Linked DNA regions of Homo sapiens: region 1 is linked to region 2. The links come from fine-mapping of genetic effects on gene expression. A gene starts in region 2. The other region holds a variant in brackets. All regions are shown on one strand. Distances are from middle to middle. Region 1 overlaps LOC102723445 (a long non-coding RNA gene). Region 2 holds the start of AKAP7 (A-kinase anchoring protein 7).

Region 1 (17,340 bases), 17 kb before region 2:
AAAAGTTTGCTGACCCCTGCCCTGAATGACAAAAGGATGCTTGTTTAGTTTCCTTCATGTATTACCTAGCCTTAGGGTTCCAGGCACTTGAAACTGCTTTCTAATGAAGATAATAATTCATATGTGTCACTAGAATTGGTTTTGACAAGGCCACTCAAAATCTATTAGATAGGAAATGGTTTTACTAAAGTTGTTTTATAATCTACAAATCAAGTACATAGTGTATGTAAAATAAATGTTTATCAGATAAATTAATGAGTGAATAACTCTGGCAAATCTGGTAGTGTGTGACCTCAGCAAGAAGCCAAGGAAAAGCATACTTGTTTCTGCCTCACATTTGCACAGAGCTTGATGACACATACTTCAAAAAGCATATTCTTATCTGAGATTACAAAGTCTTTCACAATGACTGTATAGGAGATAAAGTGGAGGGAAAAACACCCTCTTCCTAGAGGGAGTATCATAGAATAACAGAACTGGAAGGGAAACATTTCATGCAGCTGCTGACTTTAAGCAGGACTACGCTGGAATCATTCCCAAAAGATAAGTTTGCTCTTTAATAGTAATAATTAGGCCAGGTGCAGTGGCTCATGCCTGTAATCCCAGCACTTTGGGAGGCTGAGGTGGGTGGATCATCTGAGGTCAGGGGTTCAAGACTAGCCTGGCCAACATGGTAAAGCCCCCGTTCTACTAAAAATACAAAAATTAGCTGGGCGTGGTGGTGTGCACCTGTAGTCCCAGCTACTTGGGAGGCTGAGGCAGGAGAATAGCTTGAACCCCAGGAGGTGGAGGTTGCAGTGAGCCGAGATCATGACACTGCACTCCAGCCTGGGTGACAGAGTGAGACTCCATCTCAAAAAACAAAACAAAACAAAACAAACAAACAAAAACTTAATAATTATCCAGAGACACAACTTCCTGGGCTTAGATATTTCAGAATATCACAACTAAACTCTTAAAAATTTCTGAAGGCTGGACACCGTGGCTCACACCTATAATCCCAGCACTTTGGGAGGCTGAGGCAGGTAGATTGCCTGAGCTCAGGAGTTCAAAACCAGCCTGGGCAACATGGCGTAACCTCGTCTCTACAAAAAATGCAAACATTTGCTGGGCTTGGTGATGTGTGCCTGCAGTCCCAGCTACTTGGGAGGCTGAGGCAGGAGAATCGCTAGAACCCATGAGGTGTAGGCTGCAGTGAGTCATGTTTGCACCACTGCAGTCCAGCCTGGGTGACAGTGTGTATTAGTTTGTTTTCATGCTGCTGATAAAGACATACCTGAAACTGGGAACAGAAAGAGGTCTAATTGGACTTACAGTTCCACATGACTGGGGAGGCCTCAGAATCACGGTGAGAGGTGAAAGGCACTTCTTACATTGGCAACAAGAGAAAAATGAGGAAGAAGCAAAAGCAGAAACCCCTGATAAGCCCATCAGATCTCATGAGACTTATTCACTATCACAAGAATAGCACAGGAAAAATCAGCCCCCATGATTCAATTACCTCCCACTAAGTCCCTCCTACAACGTGTCGGAATTCTGGGAGATACAACTCGAATTGAGATTTCAGTGGGGACACAGCCAAACCATATCAGAGCGAGACCCCATCTCAAAAGAAAGAAAGAAAGAAAGAAAGAAAGAAAAAAGAAAGAAAGAAAGAAAGAAAGAAAGAAAGAAAGAAAGAAAAAAGTTCTTCTTGCTCTTCAGCTTAATTCTTCATGCAGTAGTATAAGAATACTTTTAAAACCATTCATTCAATAACTTTATACACAGCATTTGCCTTAAAGTTTGATAGTTATGTCTCCTTTCTCCTAGTCATCTTATTCTCAGTTTGAGGGGTAGTGTTTGACATATTTTTGTATGTTTAAAAGTTACCACCATCACTACTATCCCCAGTACTCACTAGAATGGGAATTAATACATTGTGATAGTAAGAATATTAAACTTTGTTTAATCCATTTAGGCTGCTATAACTAAATACAATAAACTGACCTATTTATAACTGAGTACATAACTGGGTACTGTAAATAACAGTTGGTTTTTTTTTTTCTCACAGTCTAGAGGTAGGGAGTCCAAGATCAAGGTGCTGGCAGATTCAGTGGGTGTCTGGTGAGAGCCTGCTTTCTCATAGATGGCACCTAATCACCTCTCAAAGACACCAACTCTTAATACTATCACATTGGACATCAGGTTTCAACACATGAATTTTTGGGAGACACAAACATTCAGACCATATTAGACTTGGGGTCTGATGTGGTTTGGCTCTGTGTCCCCACTCAAATCTCATCTCGCATGGTAATCCCTACATGTGGAGGGAGGTGTACCTGGTGGGAGGTGTTTGGATCACGGGGGCAGTTTCCCCCATGCTGTTCTCAAGATAGTGAAGGAGTTATCACGAGATCTGATGGTTTTAAAGGTGACAGTTTTTTCTGCACTCACTCTCCTGCTGCCTTCTGAAGAAGGTGACTGCTTCCCCTTCTGCCATGATCATAAGTTTCCTGAGGCTTCTCCAGCCATGGGGAACTGTGAGTCAATGAAAATTCTTTCTTCATAAATTACCCAGTCTCAGATATTATTTTTATAGCAGTGTGAGAACGGACTAATACAGAGTCTAAAAGTCAAGATATGAGTTCTGGCTTGAGATGGTGCCTGCCATCTAATGGATGCTTGGTGAGTATTAGTAACTTTTGGTCTTGTTTTCTGTGAACCTGGATGATTTACTGACTATTTCTGAACTTCATCTATGACATGTGAGAAGAAAATACTTTCTGAGTTGATATGGATATCAAATGATGTTTCTGAAAATGCTCACTAACCTAGGAAGCATTATATAATTTCAAATTATTGTGACAAAATAAGAATTCAAAAATACAAGAAAAGTGTCTGCAAATGGCAATATAAATTAAAAGGTCAGTCAATTATCTTTGGCCCCTGTCCTCTCCCTGCCCACCACTAGATTTAAGAGAGAGAAGATCCTTACTCTTGACTCAATAAACACAGAGCTTGGAGTCTATGCTGGAGGCCAGCCTGTTTCATTCAGGTCAATATGTAACTTCAGCAGGAACCAGGGACCCCCAGTTAATTCCAAATGAGGATTCTGACTGAGCTGGAAAGTGCACTGGAGCTTTTTAAAACAGGTGCACAGAAATTTTATTTTTCTAAAAATGTGCTTTATTAGAAGTGATGATTTATTATGTCAATCATATATTACAAATTACTTTGCCCAATGATATAAGCAAAACACATAGATTTTTCTAAACAGGCTTATTTGATCAGAGGTTAAGAGAACAGCCCAGCTCTGGCTGTTTTATACTAGAATATAAAGACCTAGGGGGAAAACCCACTTAAATAGGTATTAATTATTGCAAATCTCTCAAAAAAAAAAGCACTTGGTTTTAACCATTATTAATACATTTTAGCCCATGTTTTTCATAAAGGGGCCATGGTTTTGTTTTAGATTTAAATTTAAGACTTTGTTTTATTTCTGTTTATCTTGAGTTTGAGGGCAATATTTTGGCTGGTCTGTAAAGGTTTTTGTCCCAACTACTCAATATGCTATGGTAGGGTGAAAGCAGCCACGAACAATATGTAAATGAATGGGCATGGCTGTGTTCCAAAGAAACTTTACTTACAAAACAAATGTCCAGTCTGCAGACTCTAGTCTTCTGACTCCCATTCTATACCAATAAGTAAAGATCACAGGAGCCCCTTACATTTACACAGAAGTGTAAGCAGTACACAATAGTCCTGTCTCAGAGCTATGCCAAGTCTCTAGCTCTCAGTCTTAATCTAGCCCTTAGGAACTTTGATAGTCCTGTCATCCTGTAGGGCTTCACACTGGCCCACTACATTAGTGACATAATGATGACTGGACCAAGTGAGAGGAATTCACATTCTTATATATATATATATTTCACACATATATATTTATATGTGTGATAGAAGGTGGAAAATAATCTCCCAACAAACTTCAGGGCCTGCCAACTTGGTAAACTGTCTAGGAATCTAATGGTTCGAGACATGTCAAGATGTTATCTCAGGGAAAAACTAAATTTCTGCAACTTGCATCCCCTATCAATAAGAACAACCCCAAACTCATGCTATATACAGTCTCAAAAAATTACCTGACTACCCTTGAGGGAAATAAGTCATATATGATTTGTTGGTACTCAGCACTATTTCTATTTCCTTTGATACTCACCCCTTCATGTCAGGGGCTGATGAATGAGAACTGTCTTTTCATAGTCCCTGTAAACCAAATACAGTTTAGATTCTGCCCATGAGGTGTACTTGTGCTTAAATTACAAGGCAGAAGACAGAATCCATTCCTCTTTCTTCAATTGTGTTGGTTGACATGTGGACTTAAGAAGATGTAACTATTTTTTTTGGGGGGGGGACAGGGTCTCACTCCATCACCCAGACTGGAGTGCAGTGGGACCACCATAGCTCACTGTGGACTCGACCTCCTAACCTCAAGCAATCGTACCACCTCAAGCCTCCCAAATTGCTGGGATTACAGATGTGAGCCATTGTACCCCGCCCGAAGTTGTGACTTTTTGCAGCAACTTCTATATTCCCTTGTGTCGTTCACCCCAGGACTTCAGGGCAATCATGACTATTGATTTCAGTCTCTTACATCCTCCTGACTTCTGCATGAAAGCAAGAAGTTTCAGATTCTTTGGACTGTGAATGTGAAAGCTGGTGGCAGCTCCTCCGACTTTCATTCCTTATGCCCTTGCAAAAATTTATAAGTACAGTACCTATACCTAATTCTCTGTAAATTAAAGCCTTTTATCTTTAAATATTTAAATTGACTTCCATTTTTCCGGCTGAGACTTGACTGCTTGCAAGAATGAGAAAATTCATTTTTGCATTTTTTATAATATTTAATATTTCTTGATGAAATGCAATAGGATAAATGGCTACATATTTTTAATACCATATTCTAATCATTTTATTTATCATAAAGCCCTTCATGACATCATTATATTTCTTATAATGGCACAGATCATTCCTGTTTGTGTCTAAACCTCAAGCAAACTAGTCCTCCTAAAGGATTAGTACACAGTATTAGCACTCACTACCATCTGGCTGTCTGTTACAAAGATATAAACAAGATATTAGTTGAGATAAACAATTCTTGTTGTTTTAATATCATACACAATTTGATTCTATGTCCTGGGGCCACTTGGGCATCATCTTTCGGTAAATAACCTCAGGAGTTTAGACAATAGTAAAATGTTGTAAAATAATTAGAAAGTGATATGTTTGCATATTTATTACATTTTTTAAATTAACAGCTTATGGAGATACAATTCATACACCACACAGATCATCCATTTAAAGTATACAGTTCAATAGTTTTTAGAATATTTATATAGAGTTTTGCAGCCATCACCACAATCTAATTTCAGAACATTTTCATCATTCCAAAGATAAAACCCCATAACCCTTAGCAGCCACACCCCTCTCCCAGCCCTAGGCAAACACCTATCTACTTTCTGTCCCTGTGGATTTGCTATACTGGACATTTCTAATTTCCCCACACCCTTGCCAGCATTTTTTATTGTCTGTCTTTTAAAATTATAGCCAACCTAGTGCCTGCCACTCGGTGTTCAAGTGATTCTCCTGCCTCAACCCCCTGAGTACCTGGGACTACAAGTGCATGTCATCATGCTGAGCTAATTTTTGTATTTTTAGTAGAGACGGGGTTTCACCATGCAGGCTGGTCTCGAACTTCTGATGTCAGGTTATCTGCCTGCCTCAGCCTCCCAAAATGTTGGGACTACAAGCATGAGCCACTGTACCCAAAATCCTTTATCTGTTTTTTAATCGGATTTTGTATTATTATTGAATTATAGGAGGTTTTTATATACATCCTGGATATACGTTTCTATCAGATATAAAAGGGGACTTCAAAAAGTTCGTGGAGCCGGGCACAGTGGCTCACGCCTGTAATCCCAGCACTTTCGGAGGCCGAGGCGGGCAGATCACAAGGTCAGGAGATCGAGACCATCTTGGCTAACATGGTGAAACTCCGTCTCTACTAAAAATACAAAAATTTGCCGGGCATGGTGGTGAGTGCCTGTAGTCCCAGCTACTCGGGAGGCTGAGGCAGAATGGTGTGAACCCGGGAGGTGGAGCTTGCAGTGAGCTGAGATCGCGCCACTGCACTCCAGCTTGGGTGACAAAGCAAGACTCCGTCTCAAAAAAAATAAAAATAAAAAGTTCGTGGAAAAATGGAATTAAAAGATAAAAATGATAAATATAAACATTATTTCTCAACATCAGCTCCATCAAAGTCAAGACACTTTTGGAAGCCAAAACACCAGCCACTTATTTAGTCCATCTCTAAATAATTGAGATTCCTGAGAATTTAACTATGTCAATGTAGTTTTTCTTACATTATTAACTGAAGAAAAATGGATGCCTTTTAAAGGCTTTTTTGTTTTGCTTTGTTTAGTTATAGAGACAGGGTCTCACGCTGTTACCCAGGCTGGAGTGCAGTGGTACAATCTTAGCTCTCTGTAATCTCAACCTCCTGGGCTCCAGTAATCCTCTTACCTCAGCCTCCAGAGTAGCTGGGACTATAGGTGTGTGCTACAACACCTAGCTAATTTTATTATTTTTTTTTTTTGAGACGGAGTCTCACTCTGTTGCTCAGGCTAGAGTGCAGTGGTGTGATCTGGGCTCACTGCAACCTCTGCCTCCCAGGTTCAAGGAATTCTCCTGCCTCAGCCTCCTGAGTAGCTGGGATTACAGGTCGCTGACACCACCCCCAGCTAAATTTTTTTTTGTATTTTTAGTAGAGACGGGGTTTCACCATGTTGGCCAGGCTGGTCTTGAACTCCTGACCTCAAGTGATCCGCCCATCTTGGCCTCCTAAAGTGCTGGGATTATAGGTGTAAGCCACTGAACTCAGACAAGTTTTATCTGTAAAATTTAGACTGGGTAAAAACAGCATAAAGACGTACAACTAATAAAAGCCAGTAGGAGATTGTCCGGGTGTGGTGGCTTACGCCTGTAATCCCAGCACTTTGGGAGGCTGAGACGGGTGGATCACTTGAGGTCAGGGGTTCGAGACCAGCCTGGACAATATGGTGAAACCCCATCTCTCCTAAAAACACAAAAAACAAAAAAAATAGCCAGGTGTGGTGGCAGGCACATGTAATCCCAGCTACTCAGGGGGCTGAGGCAGGAGAATCGCTTGAACCCAGGAGGCAGAGATTGCAGTGAGCCAAGATTGCGCACTGCACTCCAGCCTGGGTGACAGAGGGAGGCTCCGTCT[CA/C]AAAAAAAAAAAAAAAAAAAATTGTTTTTGTAGCAATGAGTTCTCACCATGTTGCCCAAGTTGGTCTCAAGCTCCTGGCCTCAAACAATGCTTCCACTCGGGCTTCCAAAGCACTTTGATTATAGGCATGAGCCACTGAGCCCTCAACTTTAATTTTTCAATCAGGAGCATGTAAGCTGAACCAATTGAGATGCCTATGGTATTGATATTGTTTCTGCTGTTATTTGTCAATCCTCTTCAGATAGGGCAAGAGCAAGATTAATTTTTTTCCTTGAAAATTGATGTGATGGTCTCCCACTGTAGGCTTTTTCTTTAAAATTGTCTCATCCCTTCTTAAACCAAGTTATCCATTTGTAAACTGCTGATTTCTTTGGGAAATTGTTCTCGTTAACTTTTTGTAAATCATTAATGATTTCACCATTCTCTCACCAAAATTTCACCATAAATTTGATGTTTATTCTTGCTTCAATTTTAGCAGAAGTCATATTGCTCTGATAGAAGCTCTTTTCAAACTGATGTCTTAGCCTTCTTAGTGTCCCAATGTAGATCCTCTTCAGATATTTTATAACAAGTTAGTATGAGTTTATTTTGGTGCAAAAACAACTTGAAATCCATGCATAATGTTTTCATAATATGCATTTTCCATGAACTTTTTGAAGGCCCTTGTATGATTTGCAAATATTTTCTCCCATTATATCGGCTGTACTTTCACTTTCTTGATAGTGTCCTTTGAAGCATGAAACTTTTAAATTTTGATTTATGTATTTATTTTAGTTTTAGTTATATTTTTTTGAGATGGAGTTTTGCTTTTGTTGCCTAGGCTGGAGTGCAATGGCGCAATCTCGGCTCACTGCAATCTCCACCTCCTGGGTTCAGGCGATTCTCCTGCTTCAGCCTCCTGAGTAGCTGGGATTACAGGCATGCGCCACCATACCGAGCTAATTTTTGTATTTTTAGTAGAGGTGGGGTTTCTCCATGTTGGTCAGGCTGGTCTCGAACTCCCGACCTGAAGTAATCTGCCCACCTCAGCCTCCCAAAGTGCTGGGATTATAGGCATGAGCCATTGCGCCCGGCCTATTTAATTTTTCTTTTGTGGTTTGCACTTTTGATGTCATGTCGTATTTAAAAAATCATTGCCTAATCCAAAGCAGAGAGATTAACTCCTATGTTTTCTTCTAAGAGTTTTATAGTTACCATTGTTTTAAATATAATTTATTTGATTATGTCTCCCTAATTTAATTTTTAATAATAGCTGGACTTAATAACCAGCACTCAAGATTCCTGAAAGTTTAAAAGTTGACTCTTGCAATCTGGTATAAGCCAGCTCTAGCACACCACTGAAGGTGTATTGTGCTGGGTGGGCCTGGAAGAAAGACAAACTAAACCTCTGACACTGGGACTGATAGGGACGAGGAAGAAGCTGCTAGTCACTCACCCATGAAGGTAGAGTTGCCCAGTGGAATCTAATCCTGATCTGAAAACTGATCTTCCTAAAAGAAACTAAAAAACTAATCTAAGGCTAATCCCATGTGGAATCTTAGGTGTGTTTCCAGAAACTGTAGTTAAGACACACCAGTTTGAATGGGATTCCTGAGGACTAACTCAGAAGACATGCTGAGGTATTGAGGTAGTGGTGGTGGCAGCATTAGATTAATACACTGTAGAACTCCCCAAGAATTTAGGTCACAGGGAACTAGATTCTAGCCTCAGAGAAAGAGCACTGGTAGGAAATTAATGTGGTACCATGCCCAAGTCATTAGATTGAGCTTAGAGCAAGGTCTTGTACTCTGTCACTGGAGAGATCACCAGTTTTTGCAGAGTATGAAAGCAAAGACACACGATACTAACTACTCTGGAATAGACCCACGTACTGTTGTGGAACACTGTAACTTCAAGGAGACACCAAGAATACCAGAAGGCAGATTCAGCAGGAATGGATTGAAGGATATCTAGTTCTGATGGAATAGCATTTGAGATACTCTGAATGGCCCCACTCCCAATACCTTCTCTCCTACTGGCCGCCTGAAAAAACCTCCAAGTACTGAATATACTATATAAATAATATGTTAAATGCTTTTATATAGCAGGCAAAACTGTAAGGAATCTATGGAAACAACAACAAAGAAAAAAAGAAAAGAAAAGACTCCTGAAAGGTAAATGATTTCTGAGGCACGTTTTCACCCTAAGGGTCAACCTAAGGGACCTTGAATTTACATTTTGAGAAATGGTATGCAGAGGATAACAGATCGGCCTATGGTGAGGAATCTAATAGGTGATCCCTGCATAGAGCTAAGTTTCTAATGGCAACACTCTCAGTATACAAGTGAGCAAGAAATATGTCTATCTAAAGAAGAAGACATTGAAAACTTGCCTCTCTCAACTTTTGCCCTGGGAGAAGAGGAAAAAAAATTCTCTGAGAATTCATAAACTCAACCAAGTGCTTATGTGGGTCTAAAGCCAGATTCAAGCTAGTGATGCATAGCGCTGCAAAATTTAGCAAATAAAAATAGAGCATCCGTAGTTAAACTTGAATTCAGATAAACAATGAATACTTTTTAGTATAAGTATGTCCCAAATATTGCACAAAAAATAATTTCTTGTTTATTTGAAATGTAAACATAACTGGATGCCCTGTATTCTATTTGGCAACCCTACCAATGTAGTATGAAACGCCAAGTAAGGAATTTAAGTTGTTCCAGGTTAATAGTGCCCCCTGGTGACACAAATAAAACGATATTCTTTTTGGAGGAATGCAACTTCAAACCAGGCTTCAAAGAATTTCCTCAGATAAAGATCGAATACAAGCTCACAATGAAAAAAAAAAAACACAAAACATATAAGAAATAAAGGTAATGTAAGTATGAACCAGAAAGAAAGCCAGAAAGGTTATTATAATAAAATATGCAAAGATTTCAGATATTAGAATGATCAAATATAGACTAGAAAATAATGTGGTTAGTATGTTTAAAGAAGTAAAAACCTGCAAACAGGAACAATAGACTAGAAAAAATTCAAGTAGATTTGAAAAAGAACCAAATGGATGGCCTAGGAATGAAAAATATAATACCTGAAGTTCAAAATTCAAAAGCTGGAGAAATAGCATATTAGACAAAGCTGAAGAAAGGATTAGTGAACTGGAGGAAACATTTAATGGGCTTGTTTAAAATTACGCTCAGAGAAACAAAGAGTTGGAAAATACAGTAGTCCCCCTTTATCTGAGGGGAATATGTTCTAAGACCCCCCAGTGGAAGCCTGAAACTGCAAATAGTACTAAATCTTACATATATAAGACTGTTTTTTCCTATACATATGTACCTATGATAAAGTTTAATTTATAAATTGGGCACAGTAAGAGATTAACACCAATAACTAAAAATAAAACAGAACAATTGTAACAATATACTATAATAAAAATTATGTGAATGTGGTCTTTCCCTCTCTTTCAAAATATCTTTTTTTTCTTGGTTTTTGAGACAGAATCTCACTCTGTTGCCCAGGCTGGAGTGCAGTGGCACAATCTGGGCTCACTGCAACTTCTGCCTCTAGGGTTCAAGTGATTCTCATGCCTCAGCCTCCCAAGTAGCTGGGATTATAGGCATATGCCACCACACCCAGCTAATTTTTGTGTTTTTGGTAGAGAAAAGATTTCACTATGTTGGCCAGGCTGGTCTTGAACTCCTTACCTCAAGTGATGCGCCTGCCTCAACCTCCCAAAGTGCTGGGATTACAGGTGTGAGCCATCACACCTCGCCTCTTTCAAAATATTAAGATATATTGTACTGTTCTGTGAGTAACTGAACATGGAAAGTGAAACCACAGAGAAGGGGGAACTATTGTATAGAGAGTCTAAAGGGAATTGAGGACAAAGTCAGACTTCGTAACATAATTAGAGTTCTGGAAGAAGGAAAGAAAAAGATTATGGGGAAATAGACAATAATAAAATAGCAAATGGGTGCTTTTTCTAAACTTTTGAGAGATACCAGTTTTCAGAATCAGGAAGCCCAATGTTTTCAAGCAGAATAAGTAAAATAAATTCATGCTTAGATTGCTAAAACTATAAAGCTCCAAAGATAAAGAGATGATTTTTAACAATTGTCAGAGAGAAGAGAGATTATAACAGCATATAATTCAGGGCAGTAGTCGAAGTTAAAATTTTTGAAGGTCCTTGTGTTATTTGGGGAGAAGGTAAAGACATTAACTTTAGATTTTTTTAAGTATGCCTGTTAATTATTTAGGATAACTCCTTTAAAACAATCAACATAGAGAATATCACTTCCAAATTAGAAGAGGAGAAAAAATGGAATGAAGGGGTTGCAGGGGGGACGCAATCAATCCAAAATAAGTCAAATACATTGGAGAGGGGTCAACAAACAAGAGCCCAGTAATTGTGGAGAGTACACCAGAGGCCAGGGTTGAGGGATATAAAGTGCTAAGCCCTCCAGACAGTGGAATGAAGCCAATGATGCGTTTCTTCCTTTTGTCCGATTACATCAAGGTCTTGGGGGCAAACACTTTGAGATTCAACCCTGGGATCTATGAAAGTCACATTTCCACAGAGAAAATGAGGCAAATATTGATTAAGAAAAAAGAGAAGGCTGGGAATGGTGGCTTACACCTGTAATCCCAGCACTTTGGGAGGCCGAGACGGGTGGATCACCTGAGATCAGGAGTTCGAGACCAGCCTGGCCAACATGGCAAAACTCTGTCTCTACTAAAACTATAAAAAATTAGCTAGGTGTGGTGCACACACTTGTAGTCCCAGCTACTCTGGAGGCCGAGACACGAGAATCCCTTGAACCCAGGAGGCAAAGGTTGCAGTGAGCCAAAATTGTGCCACTGCACTCCAGCCTGGGCAACAGAGCCAGACTGTGTCTCAAAAAAAAAAAAAAGAAAAAAGAAAAAAAAAAAGAAGTGTAGTTTCTTCAAGGCTTTGGTCAGGAAATTGCTAGAAAATCAATTAATTTTTTTAATTATCTGGAAATTTCCTGGATTTGCTACTTCACATTTTTAGCACAGATGAAATGAGGCCTCGGTGTGTGAACATGGATCAGTCAATTCATCATTTATTTTGGAAAAAAAATCAAATCTGTCCTATGTGCTAAGCAAAGTGTTAGACTCCCTTAAAGTGTTAACTATCTCGTAAGAGAATTATTTATAATGAAAGCTAAAATATTTTAATCACCCCAAAAGAGGTAAAAATAAAGCAGAGGAAGTTTTCAGAGTAGAAAGTATCCTTATTTGGTTGGAAAGATCAGATGAAGGGGATATATGAGATGGTCATAAAAGGAAAGACTGAAACTTTTCCTTCAGGTGATACAGAAGGCATTTTAGGTGAAGTGAGTATCATACACTACAATATAGTTGTTGGACATCGTTTTCAAAGATAGTTAGGGAACAAAAAATTATTAATTTGATCCATTTGAAAGATGTTAGAGAATAATTATCAATGAGAAAAAAAAAGTGTGTAGAAATGAATTGTGGCAGGCCTCAGATCCACAGCTGAAGAGCTCATACTTAATTTTACAGGAAACTGTAATAGTATGGGAGGCCTGCCTCTAAAGCTTTTCACAGATAGAAATCCGGCTTTCAAAGTGATACCCTTAACCACTTCGCCATGCTGCCCCTTGAACAAATGATGCCTATTTACAAGACACAGTGAGTTTTTGGGAATTTATTAGGCATTTGATAAATATTTGACCAATAGAAAAATGTCAGCACTGCTGATGATTTAGAAAACATCAAGTAAATAATAAACCCAGTGTAGTAAGGGCTTTGGGGAAGCAGATGCTTTTTATGCTACTTATTATTCTTAAAAAATACAATAAAATAAAATAAAGTAAAAAAATAAAAGTTTCAGGGCCCTGATGAGGTCTACTTGGTAAGTGGAGCGCCTGAGGAAGCCTGTAGCTTCAATCATGTATGGTAACCGGGTGGCTGAGCACCAATCTGGGTTGTGAGGAAATAGGGGAGAGGTATGCTGGGCCACATCCCAGCCTAACACGTGTGAGATTCCTTTTAGGAACTAACCTCATTAGCTACAAGGGTCATGCAGAGGCAGCAAAGCCTGGTGCGATGAGCTCAGCCTTCACTCATTCATGAACACCATCACTCTTTTATTCAAATCTGTATATGGCTTTTTTGCTTTTTTTTTTTTTGAGACAGAGTCTCACTCTGTCGCCAGGCTGGAGAGCAGTGGCGTGATCTCGGTTCACTACAACCTCCACCTCCTGGGTTCAACAATTCTCCTGCCTCAGCCTCCTGAGTAGCTGGGATTACAGGCATGTGCCACCATGCCAGGCAAATTTTTGTATTTTTAGTAGAGACGGGTTTTCACCATGTTGGCCAGGATGGTCTCGATCTCTGGACCTCATGATCCACCCACCTTGGCCTCCCAAAGTGCTGGGATTATAGGCATGAGCCACCGTGCCCAGCCAGCTTTTTTGTTTTAAAAGTTAAATCCATTCTAATTACCCAAGCAATGCATGAATTCATTATCCTTTTGAGAAACTAGGTTGTTATAAAGATACTGTCATTCAGCTACCAACCACTCCCCATTCCTGTCCCTTCCCCTCTTAATGGCTGTTATGTTTGTTATACTTCCATTTAGACTTTAATATTTTTACATACATATATGAACTCATTGGAAATAGTGTGTTTAATGCAAATGGTATATTGAATTGTTTAGCAATTTGTTTGCTTTGCTTAATGATGTTTTTGAGATCTGTGCATGTTAGTTAATGTAGATCAGTCCATCCTCTGTAATTGCTGTATAGATTGTCATCATATGACTACCATATTTTACCTACGCAAAAAAAAAACCAACAAAAATAAACAAACAAAAAACCCCCAAAACCCCATAAAATGGAACATTCCTCTTAATTTGATAAATTTACTTTTGGTATATGGATCAAGAAAATGATACAAATGAAAGAGAAAAAAATCCAAGGATATTTGTAAGTGGATTCTACTGGAAATGCTCAAGATTTGGGGACTGGTTAAACAAATGATTGCATATTAACACAATAAGGCATTATAATATAATACAAATTATTATATATATAAAATACCTATTTGAGAGAGATATTTGAAAGATATTAATTAAAAGTGGCATAGTATTATATATGGTTTATATATATATAAATTATGTCTATAAAATTTACTGTTACTCTGAAGTGATAAAAGAATGAAAAAAATCAGAGGACCTTGGGTAATTAATATTTTCTTTCTTTTTTTTTTTTTTGAAATAGAGTCTTACTCTGTCACTTGGGCTGGAGTGCCGTGGCTCAACCATAGTTCACTGCAGCCTCCACCTCCCTGGGCTCAGGAGATTCTCCCACCTCGGCCTCCTAAGTAGCTGGGACTACAGGTGCACACCACCACGCCTGGCTAATTTTTGCACTTTTTGTAGAGATGGGATTTGTCATGTTGCCCAGGCTGGTCTTGAACCCCTGGGCTCAAGGGATCCACTTGCCTTTGCCCCTCAAAGTGCTAGGATTACAGGCATGAGCCACCATGCCTGCCTTGTAGCTAATACTTTATAGTAAAGGAATTTTTGCAGTTTGGTTGGCTATAATTATTTTGTCTTTCACTATATTACTAGATCAATCAATAGACAATGAAGATATTTGCCGTTTGAAACCACACAATATTTAGACAAAGAGCTTTTAGTTGGACCATGTATTCAAATAGATGACCATCTGTAAGGAAATATTTTACTGTGTAAGGGAAAATAGACTCAAATTTCCTCCCACTCTGATTCTATTTCTCTCTAGTACTCTTAAAGTTTTACTACTTTTTCCACTTCTTGTATCTTCTAATTCTTACAATATTCAAAGAAAACCTCATAGTGTAATTGTCAATTATACTCTAATTGGAATGCAAATAAGATTAGCATTGCCAGTTAAGGCTTGTATGATGCCTGTTTTAAATATCAATTGCACAACTAAAAAACGAGGAATACTTATGCCAAATAAGCAATGAGATGACTAAGTTGAATAAGATGTAAAATCTGCTAGCCCAGATATTAATATCCTATTACTATAATCTATGTTAATATCTTCCTGAAAAAACAATTGTAACACACATTTTAGAATGAACAATGAGAAGTTTGAACATAAACTGCATCAATAATTTCCGGCACGTTAGGAAGATAATGAAACCAACAAATAGTAATATAGAGCCCTGATGACCCAGAAAGTGAAATTTGATATCGCTCTTAATATTTTCCTTTTAGTATTCAGAAAATCTTACCAGGGAATAACAACAACAAATCATCAATGAAGAATGGTCTATTGGAATGTATAATGATGGTTTATATGATGTATATGATACCAAAAATAGTCAGCAAAACACAGTTTCAAACTAAGAAATCTTGTGAAATAAACTATCAAAGAAGAAACTAATCCCTAGCACTAATCAAATTCAGGAAGCCTAATTAGAGCTGTTAAGCCTAATCTGCCAATCTGGCATTTGCTCAAAATGTGGTCAGGAACACTAACTACTTCAGTGTATAAAAATAGAGATTATCTCAAAATCCACAATATAAGACATCATTATCTTCTGAGTAAATAATACAAGCTAGAGTATACCTCGTAATAAGTAAATGATCTCTTTTATTTTAACTGAAGAAAAAGAATCAATGTTCTGGATGTAAATGTCCTCAACAGTGTTTATTTCTTATTCTTGGCCAGAAAAGAAGAAATGCATTAAGTATGTAATAATTCAGGCAGCTGACAAAATGTAAAAAAAAAAAATTCAGATTCTAATCGCAAAGATAGTGAAGGTCTTCCGTCTGCAGCCCTCTAATTTTCTAACTTTATATACCCTCTCTCGGTGACCTCATCCACATCCATAGTTTCAATGATCACTTGTACACCTATAACTTCCAAATTGCCAAGAGTCCTTCCTCAGTGTCTTCCTCTCCTCCCAGCAAATGACTTCACTTATTTCCATCAAGCAAATTGACATCTTTAGAAAGTAGTTCCCTTAATCACGACCCATCCAAATACTTACCAGGACCCATCTTTCCTTAACTTGCTTCCATCCTGTGTGAGATCACTGCCTTCATTTGAACAGACTCTATAGCTCTCACCCCCATTATTCAGTTTTGGTTTTTTTGGTTTTTTTTTTGACAGAATCTCACTTCATCACCCAGGCTGGTGTATAGTGGTGCGATCTCAGCTCACTACAACCTCTACTTCCTGGGTTCAAGCAATTCTCCTGCCTCAGCCTCTCAAGCAGCCAGGACTACAGGTGCGTGCCACCATGCCTGGTGGAGTTTTTAGTAGAGATGGGGTTTCACCATGTTGGTTAGGCTGGTCTCGAACTCCCGACTTTGAATGATCCACCCGCCTCGGCCTCCCAAAGTGCTGGGATTATAGGCATGAGCCACCGCGCCCAGCCAGTGTTTTTCCTTTTCTGTCTCTCTTTACTGGTTCCTTTTTAGGATTTAAATAGAATTTAGCTCAATGTCACTCCCACCTCTGAAGATCTAGTTAAAGGGACTCAAATTCTGATGGCATGTGAAAGTCTAGCCCCTCCCTAAGATTTCTGCCAATTCTTAGGGGTTTATAATCACAGGACTCTTTCAGCCTCTAGGCACAGGGGGTCCTCGTGTGCTCTGTGTTTCTCAGCCATCTCCTTGGTTTCCAGAACAAAATCATTCACAACTAAGAGTGGTGAACTTAATTATTGACTTTATTGAAGGTATGTGAGATCCAGGGAAGGATCCCACTCCTCAGCACACACTGTCCGCCATCCTGCTCACTCCGCTCTCACCCCTCTCTCCATTCTTCCACTCCTCATCCTCTTTGTTCTGGGCTTCTCTGGGAATACCCAATTCACTCTGCTTCTAATGTTCTGGCATCAGCCAACTCTTTCTCTTTCTCCACATTATCAATTGCTGAGTTTCACTTACTATTGTCTTGCAAACTCTTAACTCTATCACTTTTATTTCATTTCTAGGCCAACACTGTTGTTTAGATTTCTGTCCCTTATACTTGGATTATTGTAGTATGGCAGTGAACTAACTGGGCTTGGGGCTTTGATTCTCTGT
Region 2 (13,173 bases):
GCTATGTGTTTTAAGTTGATTTAATAAACTGTTGATGTGAACAGTTTAATTTGGTCTTGAAGTCTTTCATTTCCATGATCTCTGTGATAGCTTGTCTGGCAGTGGACTTGGAGGCTATGTGGCATTAGGATAATTTTCTACATGACATGATTTTAGAAAAATGTTCTGTCTGCCATGAAGGTGTCCTCTCTCCAATTGGCATTGTGTTATTAAATAAGTAGTCACTTTAATAAATAAGTTATATTTCTGGACAAATTTGAGGCTTGAGATCATTTATAATAATTTATCTTGGTAAACACATTTATGGCTTATTTTTGGTTGCTCAGATTATTTACATGTGACAATACTGTAATTGAATATGCTGGCTGTCTTTTCTTTCTTGCTTACTTTTTTCTTTTTCCTTTTATTGAAAATAGGCAGGGTACCAAGAATTACTAATTACAATATTCCTTCATTTCATGGGTAATGCTTGAGGAATGAATTAGCGATGCAAATGTTGAGTCGATATCCACAAATGTAACAAGTTTATGATGCTAGAAGTAAATGTCCACAGGTATTATTAGATTTATGAGCAGGCAAAAACAACAGCCAAAAGGCCTTCAAACCTCCAAAATCTCCATCCTTGGCTTCCATTAGAGTTGACTCTTTAAGATTAGGTTCAATCTCTAGAAAGTTCATTAAATAACTAACTCAATAAACATTTATTTAGAAACTCCTGCATACTAGACTTTGGATGGAGACTATAAAATCCCTGCCCTCATGGAGAAGCAGGGGAAAGAAGCAGCATACATTAATATACTTAGAATTAAATGCTCGTGGCGTGAATGGGCCACACTACCTGAATCCTAGGGAACTCCATATTCATGCGTCTTGTCTCCCTCTGCTGCTCCATTAGCCTTCCCTGCTCATGGTGTGGTTACAAGGACCAGAACTGAGGTTTGAACAAAGAGAAATCGGAGTAATTTAATGGCTAAGTGGCTGCCTGCATATCAGGTGTACAGAGTGTTTTCCTGCCATTATTTTTGCCAAAATAATTCACTGGGACTTAGTACATGAGCATAGTTTAGTTTGTGAGATTGACTGATGAAAAGTATGACCTGAGAAAAAGAGACAGGGCAGGTAGATTTGTGGGGAAAATAGACCTGGAAGTTCTTTTGTTTCATTTTGCTTTGTTTTTTTTTTGTTTTTTTGAGACAGAGTCTGGCTCTGTCTCCCAGGCTGGAGTGCAGTGGCGCGATCTCGGCTCACTGTAACCTCTGCCTCCTGGATGCAAGCGATTTTCCTGCCTTAGCCTCCTGAGTAGCTGGGATTACAGGCATATGCTACCATGACCGGTTAATTTTTTTGTATTTTTAGTAGAGATGTTGGCCAGGCTGGTCTCTAACTCCTGACCTCAAGTCATCTGCCCACCTTGGCCTCCCAAAGTGCTGGGATTACATGCCTAAGCCACTGCATCTGGTCCCAGACCTTGAAGTCCTTGACCATAGGTTGTATGTCATGATGGCACTTGGACATTTGATTTCTTTAGAGAAAAAGTCCCTATCTCATAAGATACAACCAAATAAGTTCAGAAGTAAAGAAGTAGAAGCCACTATAAACAATCCATAGAGGAAAGGAAACATTTAAATGAAAGGGAATGAAAGGAAAACATTTAAATCATTAGAGCAAAGAAATAAAACCACTAAGGAAAATTAATACATAAGACTACATACAAATTTTCAAATTCTGCACATTATAAACTTCTATATACGAATTAAAATACAAATAACAAACTAGGGGAAATGTTTTCAGTATATATGACAAAGTATTTAAAGTAATCGATTTTCATTCTACCAGAAAGACATGCACACATATATATTCATTGCAGCACTATTCACAATAGCAAAGACATAGAATCACCCTAAATGCCCATCAACAGTAGACTGCATAAAGAAAATATAGTACCTATACACCATGGAATACTATGCAACCATAATAAAGAATGAAATCATGTCCTTTGCAGGAATATGGATGGAGCTGGAGGCCATTATCCTTAGCAAACTAACACAGGAACAGAAAACCAAATACTGCATGTTCTCACTTGTAAGTGGGAGCTAAATAATGAGAACAAGTGGACACAAAGAAGGAAACAACAGACACTGGGGACTATTTGAGTGTGGAGGGTGGACGCAGGGAGAGGATCGGAAAAAGTAACTAGCCTCCTATCAAGGTGGCAAAATTATATGTACACCAAGCTCCCGTGACATGCGTTTACCTATATAAAAACCTGCACATGTACCCCTGAACCTAAAATAAAAGTTAAAAATATAATAAAATAATGGATTTTATAAAGTAGTAGAAAAAGGTAAACGATTTAGAAGAAAAATAAGCAGAAGCTTTTTATAAAGAGAGGTGTGCAAGTGGTTACGAAACACATGAAATAATATGCAGATTTATTAATAATAAAAGAAATAAGAGGTAAAATAACAGCCATTTGAACATTGTAAATAGAAAATGAGGGTTAGTGGGATGGATAATAAACTTTCATGAACTGCTTATAAGCATATAGATTTGCATGAAGTTTTTGGTGGATAATTTGGCAACACATTTCAAAAGGCTTGTAATAATTTAGAATCTATTACCTATCACACCTCCTTCTGGGAATTTATTTTAAATAAATAATTTAAGGCTGGGTGTGGTGGCTCACATCTGTAAATCCCAGAGCTTTGGGAGGCCAAGGCAGGCGGATCCCCTGAGGTCAGAAGTTTGAGATCAGCCTGGCTAACATGGCGAAACCCCATCTCTACTAAGAATACAAAATTAGCCAGGCGTGGTGGCGTGTGCCTGTAATCCCAGCTACTCAGGAAGCTGAGGCAGGAGACTCATTTGAACCCAGGAGATGGAGGTTGCAGTGAGCTGAGATCATGCCATTGCACTCCAACCTGGGCAAAAAGAGTGAAACTCCATCTCAAAAAAAAAAAAAAAAGGAAATAATTAAAAAATTTAAACTAATTACAGAAAAATGTACTTATCATAGAATTATTTTTAACACAGAAAAACTGAGATGAATTTAAATGAGGTTGAACAATGACATTGGCAATTGGTCAAATACATTATGATATATTTATATAAGGATATAATATGCATGATTGAGCTGGGTGCGGTGGCTCACGCCTGTAATCCCAGCACTTTGGGAGGCCGAGGTGGGTGGATCACTTGAGGTCAGGAGTTCGGGACCAGCCTAGCCAACATGGTGAAATTTGGTCTCTACTAAAAATACAAAAATTAGCCAGGTGTGGTGTCAGGTGACTGTAGTCCCAGCTACCAGGGAGGCTGAGGCAGGAGAATTGCTTGAACCCGAGAGGCGGAAGTTGCAGTGAGCCAAGATCATGCCACTGCACTCTAGCCTGGGTGACAGAGCAAGACTCTGTCAAAAAAAAAAAAAAATGCATGATTGAAAGAATAATATAAAATATAGAAGAATGCTTAATGACATGAGAAATTAGTCACAATATCTTGTAAAAGACAAAAGTAGCTTATGATGCCATAATGTGACATGATTTCATTTTTATAAAATATATGCTGCAGGAGTATGTGTTTATATGTGTATGTATATCTATGTCTAAAAAGATACAATTATAGATAATTTTACATTTTATTCCATAAGTTTTTCTGAATTTAAAAATATCATAAAACAACATGTTACTTACATAAAATTTTAGATTTGTAGTTAGAAATATTTAAAATAATTTAAAATGTTGCATTCTGTTATTAAATATTATCAGGCCCTTCAACTGTGTCTGACTACTGAAATAAGTCTATTATTAAATAGGTGTAGTGCTTTCTTAAAAATATTATACTCAAACATTAATTGAAAAGCTTACATGTTAAACACATATTCTTCTTCCAGCAAAATGAAATGTCACCCCGAGTTACCTTGGGTCACCAAGGGTCCCAGTTAGCTTTGTACTGATATTTGGCCGTGTCTTGTAGAACTGCATGATGTCATCCTTTTTTGTAACCATTTGCAACTTTAGTTTCTATGGGGACCAAGGAACATCCTAGGGCAAGAATTAAAACAGAGTCAATTGTTTTGGTAGAAATTCACTAGGTCAGGACCGTATCACAGAAGAGAAATGAGGGACCTGAAGAGAGAACTCACCATAAAGAAAGGAGTCGGGCAGGGTGAATGAGTCAATTTAGTAGTAGTTCCTGAAAGTCAGAAATGGGTCATGTTTCAGGAACAGTGTGGCAATCTGAACCTGAACACTTCCCATCCAATTATTTCAGCAATCATTGTACCTTGCCCTCTGGGGGAAATGGGGCAGTGTCTGTAAAGAAACTTGCTGTATCTCAAGGAATTCTGTAATTCTTATAGGTCCCAAAAATCTTCTGTGATGCAGCTCAACCTGCTCTACTCTTAGCAGAGTGTAATGTGTAGGGAGAAGTTGTTCTTTTCTCTTTTTTTGAGATGGAGTTTCACTCTTGTTGCCCAGGCACAATCTTGGCTCACTGCACCTCTGCAACCTCTGCCTCCTGAGTTCGAGCGATTCTCTGCTCCAGCCTCCTGAGTAGCTGGAATTACAGGCATGTGCCGCCACGCCTGGCTAATTTTGTATTGTTAGTAGAGACAGGGTTTTGCCATGTTGGTCAGGCTGGTATCAAACTCCTGACCTCAGGTTGTCCACCCGCTTCGGCCTTCCAAAGTGCTGGGATTACAAGCGTGAGCCACTGTGCCCAGCTGACCTTGTTCTTTTCATTTGCAAGAGATGTCACCATGAAGACTGGGAGAATCCACTGTGGCCAGGTGAATTAGCAGGCAGCTGATGTGCGCGAGGGCAGAGGACTTTCCGGAGTCAAGATTGGACAAATGGAACTCAGTGAAGCAAGGGCTGGGAACAGGTGGTAGCTTAGAATGATTCATTAGATTAGTTTTGCCAGACACCACTTGGAAACCCAAAAGTATTTTGGAGGAATTTCACAAAGGACTGGCGTCTTGGCATGAGTTGGTAGGTTCATTTAGCTATTAAGATTTAGATGTTAATGTTATACTTGCAGTTGGCTTTGCAGGGAAAAAAAGAAAAAAATAGAAATTAAAAAATTTTTAAAAAAGAAAAAACATTTAGATGTTAAAGTTAATGTTGGCTAATTTTTAGCCTTAAGCTGGAGAAGCTTGTTCAGGCGTGAGCAGGTATATGCAAACCTATCCTGAAGGGTTGTGGGAGCTGAGAGGCTGAAGAAAGTGACTGACAAATCCAGTTTTTCAGAAAGAAATATTTAACAGGGTCTTATGAACCAAAGTGACTCTCCAGAGGCCATGAGATTACACATCCTCGCATCCACCCTCCAGAAAGTATTCTAAGACTTGGGCAGTTGGTCCCATCTCAAACTTATGACCACTGGGGAGGTCAGATAAGCATCTTTATGAGGGGTTGTCTATGCTAGATGCTTGGTTTAAAAACCTTGCTGCAGAACACCTTTGCATGCAGGAGCCAGACATTGCTCTTCATGGAGGTTTTGCTTCAAGATGGCGCCACTCTTGCCACGCAACAGGCTGTTTGCCAACAAAACTGTAGGACATTAAGATTACCCGTGATATTGTTTCTCTTTCTTTCTTTTTTTTTTTTTTTTTGAAATTTATCTGGGAGTGCTGCTTTATTTTTTGACAAATCTGAGTACTTAATGGATCTGGATGCTTATAAAAGTTTTATTCATTCATTGAATGTCTATTCATTGAGAAATCTCTATGCATTTGGGAATACGAAGACTTTAAAACATAGTCTTTGCCTTCTAGTGGCGTAAAGTCTAATGTATGAAACAGAAAAATGTGGCAAAAGGGATGGTCAGAGCGGGCACAAGGAGTATTAAAGCCCTCAGGTGGAGTACCTAACCCAAGTAGAAGGGTGGGGTCAGGGACTGTTCCCCAAAGGAGGTCACTGACAGTTCCTACTGATCTTGACCATAGCTGCGGTCCCCTGTGACAGCAGTAGGACAGTTCAATGTACTGATGTGGGAAACAAACTCTATTTAATAACTGCTAAATGGTGCTGAGAATGAGTTAAGGTTAGAGATAATCGGCAAACTGACATAGAGGCTTAAAAATCTTAAAAATCCCTATAGGATGTTTGGTTATTGACAGAACCAGTTAATATTGAAAATCAATTAAATAGATAAATTCGGCCAGGCGCGGTGGGTCACAACTGTAATCCCAGCACTTTGGGAGGCCGAGGCGGGCGGATCATGAGGTCAGGAGATCGAGACCATCTTGGCTAACATAGTGAAACCCCGTCTCTACTAAAAAATACAAAAAATTAGCCGGGCGTGGTGGCGGGCGCCTGTGGTCCCATCTACTCGGGAAGTAGAGCAGGGAGAATGGCGGGAACCCGGGAGGCGGAGCTTGCAGTGAGCCGAGATTGCGCCACCGCACTCCAGCCTGGGCGACAGAGCGAGATTCCGTCTCAGAAAAAAAAAAAAAAGATGAATTCATAGGTATTAATTTGTTTTATGAAAGCAAAAAAGAACCAGGTTGCCCAATGCTTTAACGAAGGTTCACCTGCAGCACGACTCATGAGGGCATGGATCCTCTGGTCCACACTTCCCTCTCCCTCCGTATGTTCTGCCCATTCCTCCCTGACTATTAGTACACAGCCCTTTTCTCCCCAGAGGACAATATACACTGGCACAGTGCCAAAACAACTGGATTGGAAGGGTTTAGTTTTAAGCTACCACACTGTTCCTGGACCACAACACCCCACCGAGATTTTGAAAAGCCTGAGCCAATTATTTTCTAGAATGTCACACATTCTGGATTGGTCTGATTCTTTCCTCATCATGTTATTTTACTTGTACCTCTATCTCCTGTATTTCTGGAAATCTGAAAATTATATTTAAAGCCTTAGCAGCTTCAGGTGAAATATTTATGGCAAGACTACCTTGCAGTGATGATATAGCTTTCACAGGAGCTTTCACAGATTGTCCACCATTAATGATGCTGAGTTTAATCACGATAAAGGTGGTGACAACCAGGTTTATTTACATGGAGTAAAAATATGTTCTCTCCTGAGCAATTACCAAGTATTTTGTGGGGGGTAGTATTTTGGCAACTTATAAATATTTCGGTCCACATTAACCTTTCATGTAATGGTTTTAGAATATATTGATGATCTTTGCATCAATCAGTTATCAGTTGTGGTGGCAAAATGGTAATTTTCCAATTATTTTATGTCTCCTATATTTATTATTGAAAATTCTTCTGTGCAAAGCAGCTTTCCCATACTACTACTTCTAAAAAGTCATGGTAAATCTTTCTTTCCCTTTAATTTTTAGAGTAAGGAGACTAAGGAATTGCGTACTTGTCACCTTTAATGGTGGCCTACTAGTTTTTCTTCCTCATTTTTTGAGTATTATTATGGGTATATAGATTTTGTATTCAGTATGTTACAATAATTACAGGTGTTATCCTTTTATGATGTCAGATTATCTCCCATTTGCTCAAAGAAAGCTGTTTCTCGCTAGTCCTTGTGTTTTTGATAGTCCCCATTTGTCTTTGCTTTTTGGCACAAGAAGATGTCCAAGGTTCACCTTGTACTTCCCTTTCTCCCTGTCATTTCTAAAAGAAGCTCTGTGAAAAATTCCTTTTTCAGACTTGGGTAATTAAAATGTTCCTCCACATGGTAGGTGTTGATAAGACTCTGTATTCATAATACTGGTGGTGAAAAATATGTGGCATTTGGGCTGTTACCTCTGCTTAGGTAAGAGAATGAAACTTCCATATATCTCTTGGTACACACCACAGGGGAAGAAAAATCTTTCTCCTGCCCATTTAGTTCACTAGGTTGGACTGTGTAAATTAAATTGACAAAAGACAGATTAAGACGAGAAAAGGATTATTACACATGCACATAGATGCTTCACAGGAAAGAACTAAAAGCCCGAAGAGGCAGTTAGAACTGGGGGCTTCTATACCATTTTAACGATGATAAAGTGTGGAGAGGCTAGACAAAGGAAAAGGGGGCTTAGCCTTTTTGCAGTATGGGAAGGTTACTAGAAAATGTATGGGTTTGTTATGCAGGTAAGACTCATTCTCCTCTTTCTGGTATGGGTGAGTGGTAAAGCTTTGTTGTTTGTTTGTTTGTTTGAGACAGGATCTGGCTCTGTTGTCCACACTGGAGTGCAATGGCATCATCTCAGCTCACTGCAACCTCCACCTCCTGGGCTCCAGCGATCCTCCCACCTCAGCCTCTGGAGTAGCTGGGATTACAGGCATGGGTCACCACGTCTGGTTAATTTTTGTATTTTTGGTAGAGACAGGGTTTTGCTATGTTGCCCAGGCTGGTTTCAAACTCCTGGACTCAAGTGATCCACTCGCCTTGACCTCCCAAAGTGTTGGGGTTACAAGCGTGAGCCACTGGGCCCGGCCTGGTAAAGCTTTAAAAATAAAAATTTATGTCACCTTTACGAAGGGAAATTTATGTCCTGCTTTTAGGCAGAAAGGGGGAGGTCAAAGTTGTTCCTGAGTCTTTAGTTTCTGAACTGTTTTAAGCTCAAGAATAATCCTTATGCTGAAGTGGCATATTTGGGGTGGCATATTCTCATCCTCTTCACTATGAATGTGGACCACATTTTTGCAGCTTTTATTTCCGCAGTTACTTATGTTTCTTTCTCTGCTATTATATGATCAGCTCCATAAGTAAAAGACCTGTCTTACCTGCACATCCTCAGCACAGAGCTCAAGCATTAAATAAATATTAGGGGAACTGGTTGTACTTTCCTACCAGCCCATAAATGGGCATCAGAAACTCAACGTGTTAGAATTATTTGAAAATCAGAGTAACTAGTTTGCCGACTTCTAGTGTGCAGCCTTTACGCCAGCTGTTGTGGCTGTGTAGGGGTCTTCTTTTCTTCCATCCCTATTCTACGATGCATTCAACATAAGCGAAGTGTTATTATTCACGAAAGGCGCTAATTTGTGGACGGATGCACCTAATGTTCTTAACCCCTGGTTTCTTCGCACTAAAACCAATCCCAATAGCATTCCGTTTCAAGTGAAAGGTTTTTATTTTTTTAAACTAAGTAAATTTCTTTTTCTCCCAATTTACTCACTGCAGTACCTTATACTACAAGAACCAGCAACTGGTTTCCTCTTAATGTCTAAACATAACATCATTGTTAAAAATTAGAGACTTTGTCACAATTTGCAGTTTTTAAAAGTAAGGTAAATAAAGTATCTCATTATACAGAAGTACAAGGTCTCGTTCTTGTACATTTCGCTCTTCCCAAATATTCTGCAATCAGAACCCTGATTGCAAAACTAAGCACATGGATTCTCAAAAGACACCAGGCCAGAGAATTCTTTCATCCTAGTCCCAATCTCGCCCTTGAAAGCGTGGGAGGGGCAAGGCTGCGCCACGGGAAATAAATGAGGGCTGCCAAAGGCCGTCGGAGGCCGCGGGGCTCGGCAGGCAGGCGAAGACCCAGCGTCGCATTGCAGAGTCGAGACGACCTGGGCTGCCGTGACGCCGCAGTCGCCGGCCCTAGTTTCCCCCGCCCTGCCCGAGCGCGTCCGCGCCTCTCGCCCGAATCCGGGTACCACCGGCGACTCGGGTCGGCCCCTTCTGGCTTGTTCCGGCGTCCGGCCTGGCATGCGGGTGCTGCGGCTGCTGCGGCTGCCGCCGCCGCTGCTGCCGCTGCCGCGGGGGCTGCGGCTTGGGAAGCTCCGCGCTTCCGCAGGCCTGGCCTCCGCCGCCCGGGCCCCCGCAGCCTGTCGCTGGACCCCGCGCCGGCCCAGCGCACCGCCCTCAGGCCCCGAGCCCCGCCCTGGCCTCCGCCTCGGCCTCGCCTCCAGCCCCGGGACGCGGCCCGCCACCGCCGCTGCCGCCAGCCCAGACGCGCCGCCCGCATGCGCCGCGACCATGGAGCGCCCCGAAGCGGGTGAGACCGGGCTGTCCAGCGGGCCGGGGCGGGGGCGACAGGAGCCGCGGGGGCCTGGGCCTGCTCTGCGCTCGAACTTTGGGAGGGCCTGACCCGCGCCGGCCCTTCTCCGAGTCTCCCTCCTTCCCAAAAGGACTCAGGGTAGCACCGAGAAGCCCGGTGCAACCGGGGTGTACATCAGTGCTGCCTGTAGCGAAGCGTTTTAATGCACGCATTGTGGGTCCGACAGGAGGCGGGGGTATGAGCCCATCCCCGAGTTTCACTTTTCTTTCTCCCTTTCTCATCCTGTGACCCTTTGCACAAAGTTCATGCCAGTACACATTCCTTCCGACGGTGTTGATGTGGGTAAATGTAAACAAAACCTAGTAAAATTTCGATTTTATCTTATATCACAAATATTAAGCACCCGAACCACCATACTGTCTCATTTAGGATTTTCTGCCAGGTTTGGACATGACCGCTTTTAAAACTGGCGCCAAGTCTACACTAGCGCCCGGAATGAATTTCCAGTTTAGGTCAGCGTTTGTTGTGAACTGAACTTTGTGATAGAGCGAGTTAGGGGTGGACTTTCGGTAAAAGGGTCCGCAAACCAATTAGAGAAAAGGTGCTCCTCTGCAAGAGTTTCATAGGATAAACTCATAGAAGAGTATAAAAAGCATAAAAACGTTAAAGTGTACTATATAAATAGCAGTTAATCGTGTGAATATGTTGACAATTGTTAAGTGAATGATGACAGTGAGTTTTTGCATTTAGGAAATGCATGGGAATGGAAATTGTTAAGGAGAAAAGAGCCATACTCCAGTTCCTTGTTTAAGTGCCGTGGCTTTGCAATTCAGGATCCTGTTAGCATATCTGTATATTTTCCTTACTCATAAAGTTTAAGATGTTTGTGGAGGTTACTTCCTCCTTTCATCCATTTTCGGACACTATTAACTTGTTTTGTCCATTTCTCCCTAATAATTTGGATTTTACTTTTGTTCCCTTTTTATGAGGAGGAAAGGAAAGCCTGGAGGTCAAGTAACTTGTTGATTTCTACGCAGCTGTCAACATTTACTAACGTGTAAGATGCTAATACTATTTTTAGTAGCTAAGCCAGGACTAGAATGGATGCCCTTAGCCCTTTCCAGTTGTTCTTAGGAATAAACTTATTTATGTATGTACTTATGTATGTATGTATATATGTATATATGTATTTAGAGACAGGGTCTTCCTCTGTTGGCTCAGGTGGAAGTGCACTGGCGCGATCATGGCTCACTGCAGCCTAGATCGGCTGGGATCATGCCAACCTCCTGTTTCAGCCTCCCCAAGTAGCGGGGACTACAGGTCTGTGCCAACATGCCTGACTAATTTTTGTATTTTTTTTTTTGTAGAGACGGGGTCTTGCCATGTCACCAAGGCTTGAACTCCTGGGCTCAAGCAGTCCTTCTCTGAGTGCTGGGATTACACGTGTGAGCCAACTTGCTCAGCTGGGATAAATTTACTATTTACCTAGTAGAGTGATGAGAGACTTACTTCACAAAATTGAGTAGTCATTTATTATCCAGTTAGGAAACCTGCATTTTGTGTGACAGTGGGAGAACTCTCCATACCCTTTTCTCTCTCTTTTTTTTTTTTTTAGAGGCAAGAGTCTCGCTCTGTCGCCCAGGCTGGAGTGCAGTGGCACAATCTCGGCTCACTGCAACCTCCGCCTCCCAGCTTCAAGCGATTCCCCTGCCTCAGCCTCCCGAGTAGCTGGGACTATAGGTGTGTGCCACCACGCCCGGCTAATTTTTTGTATTTTTAGTAGAGATGGGGTTTCACCGTGTTAGTGAGGATGGTCTCTATCTCCTGACTTCGTGATCTACCTGCCTCGGCCTCCCAAAGTGCTGGGATTACAGGTGTGAGCCACCTCACCCGGCCCACCCTGTTGGCCTGTTTTTGATGAAGGCATTTGCTTCACCTGTATTTGAATATTTGCATATATTTAAAGGTATGGTTTTATAATATACTTAAAATGTATGTATTGTTTTTCTTAGGTAATATTCAATTTTGAAACGTTTGAATAGCAGAAATGAGAAACATGAATATATTCAATATAGTTGTCAGCATTTACAAGCAGTTTATACTGTTTAGCCTTTGGCCACATAATTGTAAATCATAGAGCATATGCAATTTTATATCTCCTTTCTAAAAACTTGGCATTTGTTGTTAGCTTTTTTCTGTCATTGCATTCTTCATAGTCATTGTTCGTAGTTGTCATTGTCGCGAGCATGCTTCGTTTAACTGTTTCCCTATTTTTTTCATTGTTTCTATTTCATTGTACCCAGTCACCATCCATGTTCCCCCCACCCGTTCCACCACCCTCCCCAGCCTCTGGTAACCATTCTTCTATTCTCTATCTCCATGAGTTCAAATGTTTTAATTTTAGTTCCCACAAATAAGTGAGAACATAGAAAGTTTGTTTTTCTATGCCTGGCTTATTTCACTTAACATAAGGATCTCCAGTTCCATCCATGTTGCAAATGACAGGATCTTATTCTTTTGTATGGCTGAATAGTACTCCATTGTATATATGTACCATATTTCCTTTTTCCATTGGATAACCTTAGTTATCCAACACTTAAATTGCTTCCAAATCTTGGCTATTGTACCATTTCCTTGTTATTAGGCATTTAAGTTTTGTTCCACTTTTCCTTTTTTGTTTAAATAAAGCTGTGGTGAATCTTTGAGCATGGATGATAGATAACCAGAGAGCAGTAAGAAGAACATCGGAAGAATATTTCTGTGGCTTCTGGTCTATTGCCAGATTGCTTTCTGAAAGGATTGCCTCCGTTTACATTGCTATAGTCAGTGTATAATAAGGTGGCAGTGTGTGGTGCCAGAAAGGGCATAATGGTAATAGAGTGACTGGATTCCAGTTCCAGCCCCAAGACCCACTAGTTTTACCCTTGAGCAAGTACTTATTTAATCAGTTAGTTTGTAAAATGAGCATCATAATAGTACCTCTCCATAGTGTGGTTGTGTGGATTAAATGAGTTCCTCCCAGTGCTTCCAGCTGTGCCTGGCTTCAAGCATGCACTTAAATGTTAGCTGTTGTTAGTAGTAGTAACAGACATATTAATAGTTTACCAGCTTCACCTCATCTTTATGTTATTAATGCATTTGGAAGCATAACTTTTATTTGGATTTATACAAAAGATAGAATTTTAACTATGGTTAGAACAAATTGTAGGAGACTTTTAAGTACTCAACCCAATGAACTTAAAAGAGTTTAAATGCTTTAAG

Evidence for each region.
Region 1: its variant is fine-mapped to the expression of AKAP7 in skin (TwinsUK, PIP 0.90).

What each region holds. Positions count from the first base shown.
Region 1 is chr6:131,106,966-131,124,305 of GRCh38, forward strand. The region is part of intron 2 of LOC102723445 (a long non-coding RNA gene); the gene reads right to left. Among named protein-coding and RNA genes, the nearest start is that of AKAP7, 20 kb to the right of the region's middle. The variant CA/C (reference allele first, on the strand shown) is at 7,286.
Region 2 is chr6:131,125,874-131,139,046 of GRCh38, forward strand. It overlaps AKAP7 (A-kinase anchoring protein 7), which reads left to right and starts at 9,594. Exons shown (of 8, transcript NM_016377.4): 1 at 9,594-9,909. The coding sequence starts at 9,891. It overlaps LOC102723445 (a long non-coding RNA gene), which reads right to left and starts at 4,488. Exons shown (of 4, transcript XR_428022.3): 1 at 4,142-4,488; 2 at 3,864-4,040. RefSeq lists enhancers at 9,225-9,725, 10,162-10,221 and silencers at 9,552-9,641, 9,792-9,901.